Homo sapiens: one gene and its partner. The protein of the gene in region 1 purifies or fractionates together with the protein of each later gene. This does not show direct contact. Each region holds a gene or a part of one and is shown on either strand. Other genes may lie near its edges.

What was found.
Region 2: the proteins of FIGNL2 (region 1) and EOLA1 purify together in Homo sapiens (affinity purification with mass spectrometry; one large-scale study listed by BioGRID and IntAct). This does not show direct contact.

The regions. Positions count from the first base shown.
Region 1 is NC_000012.12:51,845,688-51,850,132, reverse strand, and holds the start of FIGNL2 (fidgetin-like protein 2), read left to right. Parts: upstream 1-1,414; 5' UTR 1,415-1,593; exon of another isoform or gene 1,594-1,910; intron 1,911-2,552; exon of another isoform or gene 2,553-2,678; coding exon of another isoform or gene 2,679-2,787; intron 2,788-4,445. UniProt on the Homo sapiens protein: Microtubule-severing enzyme that negatively regulates cell migration and wound healing. In migrating cells, targets dynamic microtubules (MTs) at the leading edge and severs them, thereby suppressing motility.
Region 2 is NC_000023.11:149,539,566-149,543,910, reverse strand, and holds the start of EOLA1 (protein EOLA1), read right to left. Parts: upstream 2,900-4,345; 5' UTR 2,607-2,899; coding exon of another isoform or gene 2,568-2,606; exon of another isoform or gene 2,174-2,567; coding exon of another isoform or gene 2,086-2,173; intron 1,893-2,085; coding exon of another isoform or gene 1,826-1,892; intron 350-1,825; exon of another isoform or gene 1-349. UniProt on the Homo sapiens protein: May play a role in cell protection during the inflammatory response. In epithelial cells, negatively regulates IL6 production and apoptosis through the regulation of MT2A expression.

The DNA of each region.
Region 1 (4,445 bases):
AGTGTTTGGAGTTCTACAGGCTAGTGGGTGAGGGCCAATCTTGCCCTACTGACACTCAGGCTAGGCAGCCACTCAAAAGGGAAACAAGCTCTCAGGAGAGAGGACCCTTAAGCACTGCCCTTGGGTGGAAACAGGATTGCCTTGGGACATCTGGAGGCTCAACAGCAGGAAGGTTCTCTGGACCCTCCATCATCAGCACAGCCCTCCTCCTACCTTCTCCTGGGGCAAAGCCGGTTCCTGGCCTTTATCCCTGATGAAGCCTTGAGTGTGTGTGTGTCGGGCAGAATTCTGTCTACCCTTCGACTGGGAGCTCCAGGAAGACAGGGCTGTGCCTCTTGGACTCTCTTGGGTATCCCTGGTGCACAGTCCAATGTTTGGCACAAAGTTAACACTCAGTATGTATCTATTGAACGGATGTCTTTGGACACTCTCAGTGGACTAGAGGTCTGGGATTCATCCCTCATCTTTTCTTCCTGCCAGTCATCCTGCTTGGCCCAGTGTGACTGCCGCCTTCTGGGCAAGCCCTCCAGTGGAGCCCTCTGTTTAGATCTCACACCCTACACTCCGCTGCCCCCGTCCAGTGCTCGCCCTCCTCCCCCGCAGCCACCCGCTCCCGGAGTGGCATCAGCGCAGAGCCGCGGCCTTGCCTGGCGGTGCGTCCTGCCCTCTGCAGCCCGGGAGGGCAGGCGCAGCAGAGTCCCGCGCGCAGTGGGTTCTCAGCTCACCTGGGGGCGGAGGAAGTGAGCAAGAGTCCTCCAGACTGGGGCCAGGGGGCCAAGGCAGTCCTGGGAAAGGGGGTCTGGGGCGGCCCGCGGACGGGGCGGGCCCAGGCCGGCTGCCTTCCCCTTTGCCCTTCGACCCAGGAAGCCGCCCACATCCAGCGGACACGCTCGACGGGCTGGGCTGCTCAGTCCCGGCCTCGGCCCCGTCCCCATGCCGTCCCCCACCCCTACCCGCCGGCCCGACCCCCACCCCAACCCCAGCTTCCCGCTCCGACGGCCGGGAGAGGCGGGGCGGACGGGTCTGAGAGTGGCGAAGGACACTCTCCACACCGAGGGTCACTTGCTCTTTTTTCCCCTCTGTGGCTAATTTATTTTAGAGCCAGGGGCGGGAGGGGGCGGGGCCAGCCGGGAGGGTGGCAAGGAGGGGCTGGGCGAGCCCAGGGGAGGTGGGGGCGGGGCGGGGGCGAGGTGGGGGAGGGCGGGGAAGAAGCCGGGGGTGGAGGGGCCAGAGAAGGGGCGGGAGCTGGGGGAAGAGAGGGGCACTAGGAGAGGGAGGAGCAGGGAAAGGGGAGGGGAGGGAGGGCCTGCGAGGGAGGGCCCTGGGGGCGGGCGAGGGGAGGCGGGGGTGGGGGTGGGGGTCTTTCCTGCGGGGGGAGCCGGGGCCGCCCCTTGTCCGGCCACCCCCACTGCCCAGTCCCGCTCCCGCCCGCGGCGGCCGCAGCAGCCGCAGCAGCAGCGGCTCCAGGATGGTGAGCGCCACTGCCCCCCAGCCCAGGCCTGTCGCCCCCGGCCCGCGCCGCCGCCCCGGTCCCCGGGCCGGACGCGCCCCCAGGCCGCGCACACTCACCTAGGACCCGGCCGTGATGCCGAGGTACGGGGCCGCGGGCGGGCCGGGATGGGGCGGGGGGAGGTGACCGTTCGGTCAGGGTGTCCGGAGCTTTGTCCGCCGGCCCGGGGCCGGAGAGGGCCGAGAGGGCGGGGGCTGCTAGTCGCGGGGTTCAGCTCGGCGGGGGTCGGAGGGCAGGGCCGGCGAGAGACCCTAGCGGGTACGTGGGAGCCGAGGGTCACTTCTCGGGGGGAGGGGGCGGGCAGAGCAGGGGATAGCCGCCCGGCCGCCGACGGGCACCCGTCTCGCAGCCCCCTCTGGTGCGGGGGCTGCAGCGAAAGCGAGCAGCCGGCTCGGGGGCGTCTGCTGGCCTGGGGGTGGGGAGCCAAGGTTTGCGGGTTCGGGTCCCAGAAGGATCCAGCGTCCGGAGCCCGAGGGCCGGCCCGCAGGCCCCTCCCACTCCGTCAGGTCTTTGTCCAGCGGCCCCTGTGTGTGTGTGTGGGAGGGGTGGGGGCTGGGTTACTGGCCCGGAGATTCCCCAGCATGGTGACGGGGCAGTGACAGGAGGCCGAGGCTACTTAGGGTCCCCGCGCCCCTAACACCCACCCTCTTCATGTCTTCTCCTCTGGCCCGGGAGAACAGAGCCCGCGTCTCAGAGTCAGGGGGTTGTAGGAGGCTGTACTCACCTTCACCCTGGGGCTACAGGCAACAAGGGGGACCCCCGGAGCGCCCAGCTCTCCAGAGAGGGCCCCTCAAACTTCCCCACCGCAAGAGCCCTCTCCTGTTCTACACAGAGATTCGCATGCTAGCAACCCCCCCGCCGCTGCAGAGGGTCCTTCGCAGATTGCTGAGCACCCTGTAGGTGATCAGCAAATGCTGGTGCCCTTCCCCAGCCCCGCTGGTCCCCCTGCCCCCGCCAGAGGAGGAGGCCTGGGAAGGGGTCTGCGCGGGGCAGAGAGCGCGCGGCCTGGACCCTGCGCCCAGCGGCGGCCCGGAGCGCAGGGGTGGGTGGACGGGTGGGTGGGCTGTTAAAGGGACGGTCACTAAATCAGGATTAGGCCGTAGGGCTGTCAGGCTGCCGGCCCTGTCTCCATGGATACCTAATTTGGAGGAGAATAGAGGACTGAAGAATGTTTGTGTTGTCCGCACGGGCTGTGGCGGCGGAGCGGTCTCCTGCTTTCCGCCCGGCAGCGAGGAGTGGGGACCCGGTTCCAGCCCAACTCTGGGCTTACGGCGCAGGTGGGCTTCCCGGTTCCTGGGCCGTGGGGCCTCCCCTGTGGAGCCGCCCAGTCTCTGGAGTGGGCTGGGCCCGCAGATGCCACGGTGCGAAACCCTCTGACCCTGCAGAGGGAGTCCCAGACCCTCCCGGAGCCTACCCCGAAATCCCATAGCATCCTCCTAAAGCCTCCCCGAGCCTCTCAGTCCGGAACCGACGCCATTCCCCGCTGTGCCTGAGCCCCCAAGGACGGGCGCGCCGGGCTGCCCGGTGCTGTGGTGCCGCCGCCACCCAGCTGTGGGACGCGGGTACCGGGCGGCCGCGCGAGCTGCGGGCAGGGGGCGGGGCGGGACTTCCTGGGGTGGGCGAGGAAAGGGGCGGGGCTTGCTGGGGTGGCTGGGCTGGACGGGTGACAGGCCTCGTAAATCCCCTTTCCCATGTTTAACACCATTTCATTTCTTTCCACTTGATTCCATTGGCATCCAAGGCAGACGGGAGCGACCCTCGTGTCCTCGCTGTAATATCTTCTGGGCGAAGCCCTTTTGGGCCAAAGGGAATTAGGCTGTGTGGGGCAGAGGAGTTGCTCCTGGGGAGGCCTAGAGGACCCGCATTCCTCGGGGGGATTCCTGTTGCCCCCACCCCCGCCCCAGAAGAAGAAACAGAAGGGGCTGAGAGACACAGAAATGAGTTTGGCTTCGGAGGCCCTGCCCGATTCTCTGGCCGTGGTATGGCTGAGGGCTGGGCTGAGGATCCCGTAACTGTCAATTCCAGTACCAGCCTGGGCGAAGGCTGGGGAGAGCCACCCAGACTGAGTGTGGCGTCGCAGAGCCCTTTCCTGCCTTTCTTCTGCTCACCCATGGCCACAGCTTTTTATGGATCAGGACTCCCCTCCCTGCCCTGCCTGGGCCGCAGCTTTATTGCTGAGATCTAGGGCTCTCTCCACGCAATTTCACGCCTCTCTGCCTTTGCTCCCGCTGTTCCTCCAGCCAAATGCCTTCCTCATTGTCCCTGTCTTTCCACAACCTCCTTATTCTTCAGGGCCCAACTCGGATGCGCACCTCCTCCGCATCACCTCCCCAGCCCCGAGCTTCTGTCACTTGCTCCTCCCTCCGTGGCCTGCACCTGTGCTCCCTTCCGCCTTTGTGGCGGGGTCCACTCAGGGCTTTGACTGAAATGGAGCATGTACTCCCTGGCCCTGCCCCCAGTGGGCTTGCCACAGGGCTTGACACCTTGTGGGTGCTCCATAAATATTGGTTGGCTGAATAAAAGGGGTTTTGTAAGGGCCTTTAGCCAGGCAGTCTGCATAGCATGGAATCTGGCCACCTTCAGGTAAACAGCTCTGTGCTCTTGGGTGGTGGAGACCCCTGGGTGGGGCTCCTCCTCTCCCTTTCCCTTATTTGCCTCCTTCTCCTCCCCATGACCCTACCCCACCCCCCCAAGTCCGGGGAGGACTTTGCCCCTTCCCTTCCCCACAGACCAGCATTCTTTCCCTGCCATTATCATTCTGTTAAACAGAGAGGCCAGTCAGGATCCATATGGATCACATTAACAATTGCTTATTATCTGGGCCAGGACTCCCCCGACTCTCCCCCCAAGCTCCGACTGCTGCCATTGCTGGACCCTTAGGAGCCCTGCCTTCCCCTCCCCCTGCCGTCGGTCAGCCAGGGAGGGCAAGAGACAG
Region 2 (4,345 bases), on another chromosome or scaffold:
TCATCTTAGTCCATGCTCAGCAGCCCCAGCATGGCTGGGCACACTCCTTCCCTCCTTCTGGGACCCCCACGTTGCTCACCGTCCTGCTCTGAATCCCGTGGTGCAGGCCACCCCCCTTCAGACTCAGCCTTAGGTGGACAGGCCCGTACATACTCAGGACCCCAACCATCACCACCAAGTCCACCTCCCTTCCACCTCTGTGAGTGGCATCACCAGCTACAGCGTTCCTGCCCCAGACCTAGCTGCTCTCTGCCCTGCCTTTCTTTCCCACATCTGCGGCCCACATCCCGTGGCACTGTGTCCAAAACCGACATTGAATCTGATCCCTTTCCATAATCTCTATGGCCACAATCCCAATCCAATCCCCTAAAACCCCCTGCCTTCTGAAGAAGTCTCCTGATAGCACCCCCACCCCCCCCCAGCACTTGTCCTCTGCACTCTTGTGACCACACTGCCATCGGAATGATCTTGGTACAGGGACAATGAGATTATGTCACTCCTCTACTGAAACTTTTCAAGGGCTCCCTGCCCCAACTAGCACAGAATCCACACTTCCTCTCAGGGCACTCAAGGTCCCTCCTGATCTGGTTTCCCACCCCAGCCACGTCCTCTCCTCTCCCCTTTATTCACCACCCTGAAGCCACACAGGCCTTCCATCCCCTGAGGGAACATGCCAAGCTTGTTTCTACCTCAGAGCCTTTGTCAGTTGTGATGGGTTGCATTGTGTCCTCTTAAAATGCGTATGTTGAAGTCCTAAACCCCAGCACCTCAAAATGTGGCCTTATATATAAAAACAGAGTCATTACAGAGGCAATCAAGTGAGACTGAAGCCATCAGGGCGGACCCGCATCCAATGTGGCTGGCGTCCTTATGAAAAGGGGGATTTGAGAGACAGTCACGCACACAGGGAGAACACCATGAGAAGATAAACGCAGAGATAAGGGAGATGCTTCTACAAGCTAATGAGTGCCAAAGATTGCCGGCCAGCCGCCTGCAGCTAAGAGAAAGGGACAGACCAGATTGTCTTTCACAGCCCACAGAACAAACGAACCTGGCCACCACTTTGATTTCAGACTTCCATCCTCCAGAACTGCGAGACAATGATTGTCTGTTCTTTAAGCCAGCCCTTTTATGGTCCTTTGTTTCAGCCATCTTGGCAAACTGCTGTTCCCAACACATCTGCACAGGCTAGGGCACGAGTTTGCCATTTGACAGCACATCAAGCCCATTCTTTCCACCTGACAATCTTCATCTACCTTGTTTTTCACTGCCTGGGTGATATCCCATTGTTGGTCGTCTCATAATTTGCCTGACCATTCCTCCACTGATGGAGAGTTACAAGTTGCTTCCCACTTTTGCCACTAGAAATGACATTACCTCTAACACTCGCTGTGTGAAGACATGCTGAAGGAAATGCCTCGGCCGCCTGGCACGCCCATCTAAGATGCTGATATCTGCCAGCAAATGACTTTCCACAAAGACTCACCCGTGTACCCTCCACCAACCCATCCATGGTGCCATTTCCTCACACACTTGTGGCCCCTGAGCATGATTATTCTTCTGATGAGTGACCAAAGATAACCAGGTTCCTTGGTTCTGGATTACTTCTGATGGAGGCTGAATGTCCCCCACAGGGCCTGGCCACTTCCATCGGGATAAATGGCTACAGTGAATGTTTGCCTCTTTTCTGCCGCCCAGTTTCTTAGCCAACCCTTTTCTCGTCATCACCACAAAATCACAACAGACGCCAACTGTGTGTATGTGGAATCCCTAGTAGGAACTGATGTAACTGAAAAGGCAAGAAGGGGGTTGAGTCCCCTCCTACCTGGTGCTGCAGAGAGTACCTGCTTTACGGCCAGAGGAGGAAACACTCTTCCACTTAGCTTCTTTACCTGCACAACAAGGAAGATAAAGAGGAAAGGTCATTAAGTGCAAGACAGCAAAGCTGGTTAATGGCCCTAAGAAGGTCATGTACTTAGCAGGCATTGGAAACCAAGAAGAGCTGGGAGGCCTGGTCTTATCAGTAACACACATGTGCACATCACAGTTTGGTTCTGCTAATCACAGCAGTGGGACCCTCCGCACCTGTCTGGGTCAAGGACCACAGGGTGCACCAGCCCGCAGGGCAGAAAATCATTTCACCATGTTGAGCAGCATTCTTGCAGCCAAGCATGCTCCATTCGAAGGGAGAAAAATGACACTTCCCCTCCCATTGTCACGGGGCGAGTGTTTGGGACTCTAAATCCCATTGTCCTCAGCTTAATTCTGGGTAGGTCACGCTGAGCACGGCGCCACAGGCCACAGAGCTGTGCACCGCCCGGCCTCAGGTCCAGGCGAGCTCACAGCAGAAGGGCCAACGGGAGGCAGGGAAGACCGGACTGAGGTGGGGCCGCTGTGTGTGGAGCAGTACACGGGCTTTCTACTCGCAGACGCACGTCGCGGGTACACGCGCTTAGAAGGAGCGGAGCCGAGACCCTGCCGACAGCAGGGGACAGGAAAAGGCGCCTCGGTCGCGCCCCGCACGAGTTCCCAGCCCCACATCCAGGGAAACCCCAGCCCTCAGGTACCGTCCGCAAGAAGGCTGAGCACACAGGCTCCCGCAGCATGGGCCCTGGCACCTGTCAGCCCCGGCAGGTCTCACGGCCTCCGGAACCATGGACCCTGCGAGTCGTGGGTGTCTAGGGCCGACTCCGGCTTTTCGCCACAGGAATGAACAGTCCTCTGCTTCCCCGAGACCCAGCGAGGCCACCGGAGCCAGGACGATGGGCTCCCAAGCAAGGAGACGTGGGCCGCTGTGAGAAGAGGGAGCGCCTGGCTAGTGTCCAGGCTGCAAGGTCGTTGCCGCTAACTCCGGGAAACCAGTGGCCAGTGACAGGTGTTAGCGGTCTATAACTCTTCCGCTTTCATACAGCTCCCGTCATCCCTTTCACGAAGAACGTACGTGGGCGCGCAATCACGCATGTATGCACACCACGCACGTACGCGGGAGGCACGTACTCAGCCATGCATATAGACAGCAAACATTATGAATCTCGCATTCTCGAAGACACGCACTGACGACATCACGCACGTACGCACGCCCTGGCTGCTAGGAGACGCTATTCTCTTTACCTGGCCCTGATGCGCGCCAGCCAACCAGGCCAAGGCCAGGGGACCTCGAGACCGGCAGCCTCGACGAAGAACCGGAAGGAGGAAAAGGAACGGGAGGGAGGAAGAGTAAGTGGAAGGGTGGGACGAGGACACCAGGCAGGAGTTTTGGGCCCAGAGCTGCTATACCAGCAGGGAGGAGCTGGGAGAAACCGCTGGGGAGGGGGTGGAGGCGGGGCTGAGAGGAGGAGGGCGGAGCTGGGGGAGGGGCCGAGCGGGACTGACAGAAACAATTGGGGGCTGGGTTGAGGGCGGGGCTGAGATAAGAGGCGGGGTGTGGGGCAGGGCCGGGCGGGGCTGAGAGAAACCATTGTGGGCAGGGCCGTGGGAGAGCTGAGCGAGGAGAAGCTGCAGGAAGAGCTCGCGGACTCTTGAGAATCAGCAGGGGGAGGCAGGTGTCCGCTGAGAGAAGGAGGGAGGGGGAGAAAGAAATCACTGGGAGGGGCTGGGGGCGGGGTTTTTAAAGCAGCTGCGTGAGAAGTAGGGCGGGGCTGGGAGAGGCGGGGCTCTGGGGGGGCTGAGAATGCTGGGGAAGGTTTGGGGGCGGGGCTTTGGAGGCAGCCACAGGAGAAGCAGGTCGGGGCTGCGGGCGGGGCTCGGGGTGGGGCGGGGCTGAGAGAAACTGCTGGGGAGGGGGCCGAGGGCGGGGCTTTGGGAGCAGCCGCGGGAGAAGCGGGGCGGGGCAGGGAGGGGAGGGGCGGGGCAGGGAGGGGCGGGGCTGAGAGAAACTGCTGGCTGAGGTCGGGGCTTTGGAAGCAGCCCCGCGAAGAGCAGGGCGGGGCAATGGGAGAACTGAGCGAGGAGCAGCTGCGGGAGGACCCCTCGGACTCCTGAGAACCAGCTTAGGGGAGCGGGGGCTTGGGGAGGTGTAGGGTGGAATCACGAGAAAGCTCTGTGGGAGGGCCTGGTGCACAGCTCAGCTGCAGCGTGGAGCTGAGGGAAAGCCGGGCGTTCCTGGAGGAGGAGCAGGGCGGGGCTGTGGCAAAGAGGTGTGGGAGCAGATGGGGCGGGGCTGCGGGAAATTGCTGGAGAAGGGGGAGCCAAGCTGGAGTAAGGCTGGCGGGTGAGAATGGTGGGGGAGGAGCTAGTGCAGAGCTGGAGGAAAGAGCTGAAAGGTGCTGGGGTGGGCAGAGGGGTAGGAGAAGCGGGACGGGGCTAGAGGAGGCGGAGCTGGGACTGGAGATGCAGGGTGAGCAGG